Regions from separate parts of the Homo sapiens genome. Here regions 1 and 2 are each linked to region 3. The links come from fine-mapping of genetic effects on gene expression. A gene starts in region 3. Each other region holds a variant in brackets. All regions are shown on one strand. Distances are between the middles of the regions. Region 1 overlaps LINC02862 (long intergenic non-protein coding RNA 2862). Region 2 has its middle 69 kb from the start of FN1. Region 3 holds the start of FN1 (fibronectin 1).

Region 1 (2,848 bases), 160 kb after region 3:
CTTCCCTCCCCTTCCCTTTCCACCTCCCTTCCCTTCCCCTCCCCTCCCTCCCTCCTTCCCTCCGTCCCTCCTTCCCTCCTTCCTTCCTTCCCTCCCTCCCTTCTTCCCTCCTTCCTTCCTTCCCTCCCTTCCTCCCGTTTTCCTTCCCTCCTTCCCCTCCTTCCTTTTTTCTATCTTTCACTAAGTGAACCAGTCATCTTTCAATTTTTTTTTTTTTTCTTGAGACAGAGTCTCGCTCTGTCGCCCAGGCTGGAGTGCCGTGGCGGGATCTCGGCTCACTGCAAGCTCCGCCTCCTGGGTTCACGCCATTCTCCTGCTTCAGCCTCCCAAGTAGCTGGGACTACAGGCGCCCGCCAACACGCCTGGCTAATTTTTTTGTATTTTTAGTAGAGACGGCGTTTCACCGGGTTAGCCAGGATGGTCTCGATCTCCTGACCTCGTGATTCGCACATTTCGGCCTCCCAAAGTGCTGGGATTACAGGCGTTAGCCTCCCACGCTGGCCTCATCTTTCAATTTTTAACACATCTGAGGAATATGAATAATTCCAAGTGAAGTAGACATTCATAAAATGCTTTTGTTCTTCCATCATTTAAATCCAAACTTTTCCATGCTGTCTTATTATGTTGGTGCAAAAGTAATTGCGGTTTGTGCCATAACTTTCAAGGTCAAAAACCGCAATTACTTTTGCAGCAACCTAATAGTTTGCTTACAGGAATCTAACAGTCGTTATTCTCTTGGTCAAATTGAAAGCTGAAAAATAATCTTTAAAATATAGATCTCTATGTTTATTTCAAGTCTTCTTGGCATTTTCTAAATTAAATAATTTCATAAAACTAGACCAAAGCTGTATGAGCTAAGATATTTATCACAGTATCAAAATAATTAACATTTACTGAGAAAAGTCAGACACTGTGATGCACTGTTTTATATGCATAATCTTTATTTACTATCACAACCACCCTATGAAGTAGCTTGTATAATAATCCCAATTTTTACAGATGAGAAAATTGCACTTTAGAGAGAGTACGTAACTTGACTAAAGTCACATAGCTAATAAGTGGCAGAGCCAGCCAGGACTTTTTTTCTTTTGTTTGTTTGTTTGAGACAGGGTCTTGCTCTGTGGCCCAGACTGGAGTGCAGTGGCACAATCTCTGCTCACTGCAACCTCTGCCTCCTAGGTTCAAGCGATTCTCCTGCCTCAGCCTCCAGAGTAACTGGGATTACAGACACATGCCACCATGCCCAGCTAATTTTTTTTTTTTTTTTTTTTTTTTTAGTAGAGACAGGATTTCACCATGTTGGTCAGGCTGGTTTCAAACCCCGACCTCAAGTGACCCACCTGCCTCGGCCTCCCAAAGTACTGGGATTACAGGCATGAGCCACCACCGCGCCTGGCCCAGGACTTTATGTATGTGTGTGTGTATATATATATATATATATATATATTTTTTTTTTTTTTTTTTTTTTTTAAGGCAAAGACTC[G/A]TTCTGTCTCCCAGGCTGGAGTGCAGTGGTGCAATCTTGCCTCACTGCAACCTCCACCTCCTGGGTTCAAGCAATTATCATACCTCAGCCTCCCAAGTAGCTAGGACTACAGGCATGCACTACCACACCCAGAATTTTTATATTTTTAGCAGAGACAGGGTTTCACCCTGTTGACCAGGCTTGTCGGAAACTCCTGACCTCAAGTGATCCACCCACCTCGGCCTCCCAAAGTGTTGAGATTATGGGCGTGAGTCACTGCACCCACCACCAGCCAGGACTTTAGAGTCAACAAGTCAAGTCTTTCTGACTCTAAAAGCTCTTCTTAACCTCTAGAAAAAGTAAATATTCAGCAATAGGAAACTCCTCACATCTATTATAACTTCAATATAACAGAATATTATGCAGCCATTGCAAATTATGTTCTTGGTTAATTTTTATTGACTAGAAAATGCTTATATTTTAATAGCAAACAAAAGAATAAGCAAGGTGCTGTGGCTCATGCCTGTAATCCCAGCACTTTGGGAGGCCAAGGTGACAGATAACTTGAGTCCAGATGTTCAAGACCAGCCTGGGCAACATGGTGAAGCTCCGTCTCTACAAAAAATAAAAAAAATTAGCTGGGCGTAGTGGTACATGCCTGAAGTCCCAGCTATTCCAGAGGGTGAGGTGGGAGGATCACCTGAGTCCAGGAGATGGAGGCTGCAGTGAGCCATGATCATGCCAGTGAACTCCAGCCTGGGTGACAGAGCAAGACCCTGTCTCAAAAGCAAACAAACAAAAAAATAAGATTCACACTAATGCATACATTATTATCTCAGCTATGTAGAAATATAAACATTTATGAGCTGGGTGCGGTGGCTTATGCCTGTAATCCCAGCACTTTGGGAGGCCAAGGCAGGTGGATCACGAGGTCAGGAGATCGAGACCATCCTGGCTAACATGGTGAAAACCCATCTCTACTAAAAATACAAAAAATTAGCCAGGCGTGGTGGCAGGCACCTGTAGTCCCAGCTACTCGGGAGGCTGAGGCAGGAGAATGGTGTGAACCCAGGAGGCGGAGCTTGCAGTGAGCTGAGATTGCACCACTGCACTCCAGCCTGGGCAACACAGTGAGACTCCGTCTCAAAAAAAAATAAAAAAAGAAAAGAAATATAACCATATATGAATACCCATAGAAAAAATGGGAAATAGTATATACAAATATTAGGATTGCTTTATTTAAATGTGGTATGATTATGAATGATTTTGCTTTCTTATTACATATTTCTGTAATGAACATGTATTACTTTTATAATCAGGGAAAAGATAACAGAAATTTTTAATACTTATAATATGAGGGAGGAAATATAAAGACTTGGTTTTTAT
Region 2 (2,848 bases), 70 kb before region 3:
ACATGTTCACTATTATTCCAAAAAGAGTCACCCTGGCCCATTCCTTTGACCCTGTGCTTGAATCAACATACCTGTTCCATAATAAGGTGAGCAGCATCTGGCCTTGGAGTTTCACAGACCCACAGCCTTACCACACTCTCTCTCTTTCATCTCACTTTCTATCATATTCACAACCTATTTTAGTATATCAGTGACACATAAGAACTAAGGATATAATAATCATGAAGGGTTTTAAGTTTAAAATACTAACAAATTTTATTTTCAGAAACAGAGTTTAAAGAAGAGGCAAACAATTCATTGCTGCTTTCTTTTTCCTACCTGCATTCTGTCGGACTTGAGCTACATTAAAAATCCAGCTGTAGGCATCAGAAATCAAAAACATTTTTACACAAAGGCACCCCCTTCAGGCTCCTAGTTCCTGCTACTGCCATTTCTTTTGGGTAAACATTCCACACTCCAGAATTTGATTTTCTCTCTTTGCTCTGCCAACACTCTGCACTGTTTTCTCAAAATCTAGTTAACAGAGTAATCTGTAACTATTAAATCTGTTCGATGAATTGTGTAAACCTGCTGATGAGGGATAGAGGCTTTTGGGGGCACCTTCTTCCAGATACCACTGGTGCTCTACTAAGATGCCTTAACACAACTGAATATTCTCCAGCTAGAGGCCCTACCAGGCTGCTCGAAGAGAAGTTTTTTTTTTTGCCTAGTGAGCGTTTCTGGCTTTTTTTTTTTTTTTTTTTTTTTGAAGCGGAGTCTCACTCTGTCGCCCAGGCTGGAGTGCAGTGGCGTGATCTCGGCTCACTGCAACCTCCGCCTCCCGGGTTCACGCCATTCTCCTGCCTCAGCCTCCCGAGTAGCTGGGACTACAGGCGCCCGCCACCACGCCCGGCTAATTTTTTGTATCTTTAGTAGAGGCGGGGTTTCACCGTGTTAGCCAGGATGGTCTCGATCTCCTGACTTCGTGATCCTCCCGCCTCAGCCTCCCAAAGTGTACCTTTTACATTATAAATTCATCACGCCTGTTACTCTGCCTGAATATAGATTAAAAGAACCATTCAGAGCCCACAGAAAAAGTAAAAGTAAAAAGAAGCAAGGTTTGCTGACTCAGGGAGAGTCTGAAAGGCACTTTGGACTTGGCCCTATCTCCCTTCCCACCTCTTTGTCCTTATCTACTCCCCACCTCCTCCTGAAAGCTGCCAGATTGTGACTGTATTTTTGACCCTAGTTCTTCTGAAATTCTTGTGCAATGAGTTTATTACTTTCTTCTGCTCTTGCAGTTTCCTCTCATATTCTTTCAA[A/G]ACGTTTTCTTATGAAATTGTCTTATTCACCCGATTGTAGCCAGCCTACCCTTCTAGAACAGAGGACTCCCATTCTTTCCTGTTCTGTATTTTATCTAAAGCCAATTCCAATTCAGAACCACCTCTATTTCTAAATTTTGATTATACATTAATACGTCTTGTAACATTCCCCATTTGGCTCCTCCAACCCATTTTTTTCTTCCATTAATTGATACAGATCTGAATTCAGAAGTGGTCTTCTAGTGGACTTTCCATAAGTACAAAATATTTATTCCAGCCACAGAGGTTTGCATAACTTTACATCTTGCCTTTGGTATTTATGTCCTCTGTTGGTGAGAAAGTCTGAAAATTTCCCAATGTTCTTGTGAGTTAAGGACACCTCAAGAGCTATTTCAATAAGGTGATTTTCCTACTCCACGTTTGTTTAACATCATGCATGCAATCTAGTATCCTATTTAAGAAGATATTGTCTGTGGATGAGATAGAAGGCAGGGAACAAATTGACTTACTAAATCTTTAGGCAGTAAATAAAGACTTCTTCTCTGAGCTCTTTACCACAAACACAAATAACCCTAAACCCTCATATCCATGTTAATAAATCCAAAACTCCCCTTCTGTCCAACACAGACGATGCCTGTCTTTTCCTAGCCCTTGGAAACAACTATTTAATTACCTGTGTAATTCTCACCAAGTTATTACCCTTTGCCTTATCAGAAAATGTTTTCTGCTCTGTCATTTGGTTTAGTCAGTGTGTTTTTCTTGGAAAGTTTCTGTTTCTGTGTCTCCTGTACCCCCAGAAGACTCACTCTTGGAGTCAGCACATGACATTTTTTTCCAAGTGCAGAGGAAGGGCTCTGTGGCCCCTGCAGAAGAACCACAGCTGTGGCTCTGTGACTTACAGGTGGCGAAGAACTTGAAGGGAGAACAGCCAGGTCCCACTGGCTATTCTGGGATGTTTGAATGACTCAATAACCATTATTCATTAAAAAGTAGGTTCCTGCTGCACTTCTGTCCAGAGAAATCCACAAGGTGCCCATGTGAGAGGTAATTTGGATACAAATCATACCTGCTTTGCAAAGCACCTACCCTTATGGCTTTCAATTTAAGGACCTATTGGAAACCAATGTTCCATTTTGTTCCATCTATGGGCATATTACTGAATATGACAGGCCTCTCCTAAATGACGTTTATTCATACCCCTTGTTCAACCCTACTTTCAGCTCCTGTATGATGACTGCCTACTTCTTTGAGGCTTCCCAGGATCTCCTAAAGTGATTCTTATCATATGCCACATAACCCAAATTCTAAATCAGATCTTCCTAAACAATACTTTCCAAATTTTGTGGAAGTCTATCTAAGAATTTTCATGATACCCACAAATAGGAAACTAATTTTATTTAAAAGCAAAAGTTTGTGGGTCTAAAGGTGTTTTTCTAGTGGCATGGCCTCCTCCATAGGAAAGGGAAGGGAACAGACCTTTAATCCACCAGATACAGCACTACCTGCTTTCTATAATTATCCCTGCATTTTCTCACAGAAACTTTATG
Region 3 (2,500 bases):
GTAACTGGCACGGTGAACGTGGGAAAGGACACGAAGACCTTTCTCTCCCCACAGCTGGTCCAACTTTCCAATTTTCAGGTTGTTCACAGTGATTTCACTTTCAGTGGAAACGGGCGTCCCATCCCCAGGAAAGGAAGGCTTTCCTGCATGTGTAAAAAAGTAAACTGTTACTTTGTCCTTGCAAAAGAAAACTTCATTCTCTGAACTTCCCCGGGATCTGCAAAGCGCCCCGCGGAACTCCCGGTACTTAGTAGAAGCTCATTAAAGGTCTCTGTTCCCCTTTGCTCCCCGTTCGCCCGCTGGCCCTTTCTCAGAGCCAGACAGGCACAGCGCTGAGAAGGGAAGAAGTCCGAACAGGGAGCTGTGAAGACAAAATAAGGGAGTCCCGAGTCAGTACCCTTTAGTCCAAAGAAAGGGAGCGGGATGGGGGGAAAGGCAGCCCCGCCCTGGGACTGAAAAGTCTGGATTCTTAACAGCTGCAAGGTCGTGGATATTTTATGGGTTTTCTTCCTCACAAAATACACTCCTATAAGCAGAGATTCCCCCCCTCCACCCCGAAGAGAGGTGACGCAATGTCCTCAAACACTACCACCACCCCCAATAAAAAAGAAAAGGGAAGGGGGAGCGTCTTGCAACCCCTTCGCTTCACACAAGTCCAGCCACTCCCTTTCCTCCCAGCCGCTTCCCATCCCTTCCCCCATCCCCTAAAAAGTTTGATGACCGCAAAGGAAACCGAAAAAAAGTTGTCTTGCCCCAGTCCTGGCGGGCCATCAGCATCTCTTTTGTTCGCTGCGAACCCACAGTCCCCCGTGACGTCACCCGGAGCCCGGGCCAATCGGCGCGCGGTCGGCTGCGGCGGCCGGCGGGCGGGCGGGCGGGTGGGGTGGGGCGGGGCGGGGACAGCCCGGCGGGTCTCTCCTCCCCCGCGCCCCGGGCCTCCAGAGGGGCGGGAGGGGACCGTCCCATATAAGCCCCGGCTCCCGGCGCTCGGACGCCCGCGCCGGCTGTGCTGCACAGGGGGAGGAGAGGGAACCCCAGGCGCGAGCGGGAAGAGGGGACCTGCAGCCACAACTTCTCTGGTCCTCTGCATCCCTTCTGTCCCTCCACCCGTCCCCTTCCCCACCCTCTGGCCCCCACCTTCTTGGAGGCGACAACCCCCGGGAGGCATTAGAAGGGATTTTTCCCGCAGGTTGCGAAGGGAAGCAAACTTGGTGGCAACTTGCCTCCCGGTGCGGGCGTCTCTCCCCCACCGTCTCAACATGCTTAGGGGTCCGGGGCCCGGGCTGCTGCTGCTGGCCGTCCAGTGCCTGGGGACAGCGGTGCCCTCCACGGGAGCCTCGAAGAGCAAGAGGCAGGCTCAGCAAATGGTTCAGCCCCAGTCCCCGGTGGCTGTCAGTCAAAGCAAGCGTGAGTACTGACCGCGGGCTGAAACAGGCTGCCTCAGGGATGGGACCCTAAAGCCGACCAAAGTTGGGGCTGAAGTTTTGTGCGCGCGCGTGTGTGCGAGTGTGTGCGCGCTTTACTGAGAGAAACCAGCTGTGCACACAAAAGGACCGAGTTTTGAGCACGCTGGTTCTGAGGGCCTGGGATGATAAGACCGTGCATTGGAGGACGAGGACTCTGCGACTTTCCCGTGTTCTAATAAATTCTGCACGTTCAGATTGTCCTTCTAGGAATTAACCAAAACTTGCCTTTAAAGAGAAAAATGATGCATGTCTATAAATTTTCCGTCTGGGATTAGTGTGGTCCTTACTGCTACTTATTTCCTTCTGTTAAATAATTGGTCAAATATTTTCAACATGGGGGTGGAAAGGGGGTATTGAAATAGCTGTCTTGTTTCTAACTAACTTGGAAGAGATGTAATTGGTTCAGACCTCTTTAGGGCCGCTCAGGATACTTCACCAAGAACAGAGGTTGGAATTCTTTCCGTTTTTCAAAGACACACCCTCCTTTTGCTTTGAGAAAGCTGCTTAAAGTTGTCCTTTTTGACTATTACTCCAAAAGAATATTTAAGTTCCTTGCATGTTTTAAAAATGTGACTTCAATTGTCTGCCTTCCAAAATGTTTCCAACTTTTTTATGTAGACCCCTGGCCAGATGGAAATGACATCATTGTATATAACTTTTAGCAAAGTTAAAAGGAAAAAAATATGTACGTCAATATTCACATGAAGAAAATTCCATAATTTTGGGAAAAGGAGAAATGCAAATGTAACGTTTTCCTTCAATTATTTGCAGCCGGTTGTTATGACAATGGAAAACACTATCAGATAAATCAACAGTGGGAGCGGACCTACCTAGGCAATGCGTTGGTTTGTACTTGTTATGGAGGAAGCCGAGGTTTTAACTGCGAGAGTAAACCTGAAGGTAAGTGACAACAAGCCCCATAGTTAGTATCTTTTAATACATGAAGTGGTAATTGTTAAACTTTGCATTAGTAAGTAAAAATACATACACCATTTTTCTAATAGAATTACCTGTCATTTCCTCTTAAGTTTAAA

What was found.
Region 1: its variant is fine-mapped to the expression of FN1 in lymphoblastoid cells (TwinsUK, PIP 0.95).
Region 2: its variant is fine-mapped to the expression of FN1 in blood mononuclear cells (TOPMed, PIP above 0.99).

What each region holds. Positions count from the first base shown.
Region 1 is chr2:215,276,998-215,279,845 of GRCh38, reverse strand. LINC02862 (long intergenic non-protein coding RNA 2862) reads right to left here. Exons shown (of 3, transcript NR_174956.1): 2 at 2,163-2,238; 3 at 1,899-2,077. Among named protein-coding and RNA genes, the nearest start is that of LINC02862, 3.4 kb to the right of the region's middle. The variant G/A (reference allele first, on the strand shown) is at 1,484.
Region 2 is chr2:215,504,025-215,506,872 of GRCh38, reverse strand. No RefSeq gene overlaps it. Among named protein-coding and RNA genes, the nearest start is that of FN1, 69 kb to the right of the region's middle. The variant A/G (reference allele first, on the strand shown) is at 1,302.
Region 3 is chr2:215,434,562-215,437,061 of GRCh38, reverse strand. FN1 (fibronectin 1) reads left to right here and starts at 994. Exons shown (of 46, transcript NM_212482.4): 1 at 994-1,407; 2 at 2,238-2,366. The coding sequence starts at 1,260. It overlaps FN1-DT (FN1 divergent transcript), which reads right to left and starts at 1,371. Exons shown (of 2, transcript NR_187198.1): 1 at 753-1,371; 2 at 1-143. RefSeq lists silencers at 811-900, 911-970 and an enhancer at 2,483-2,500.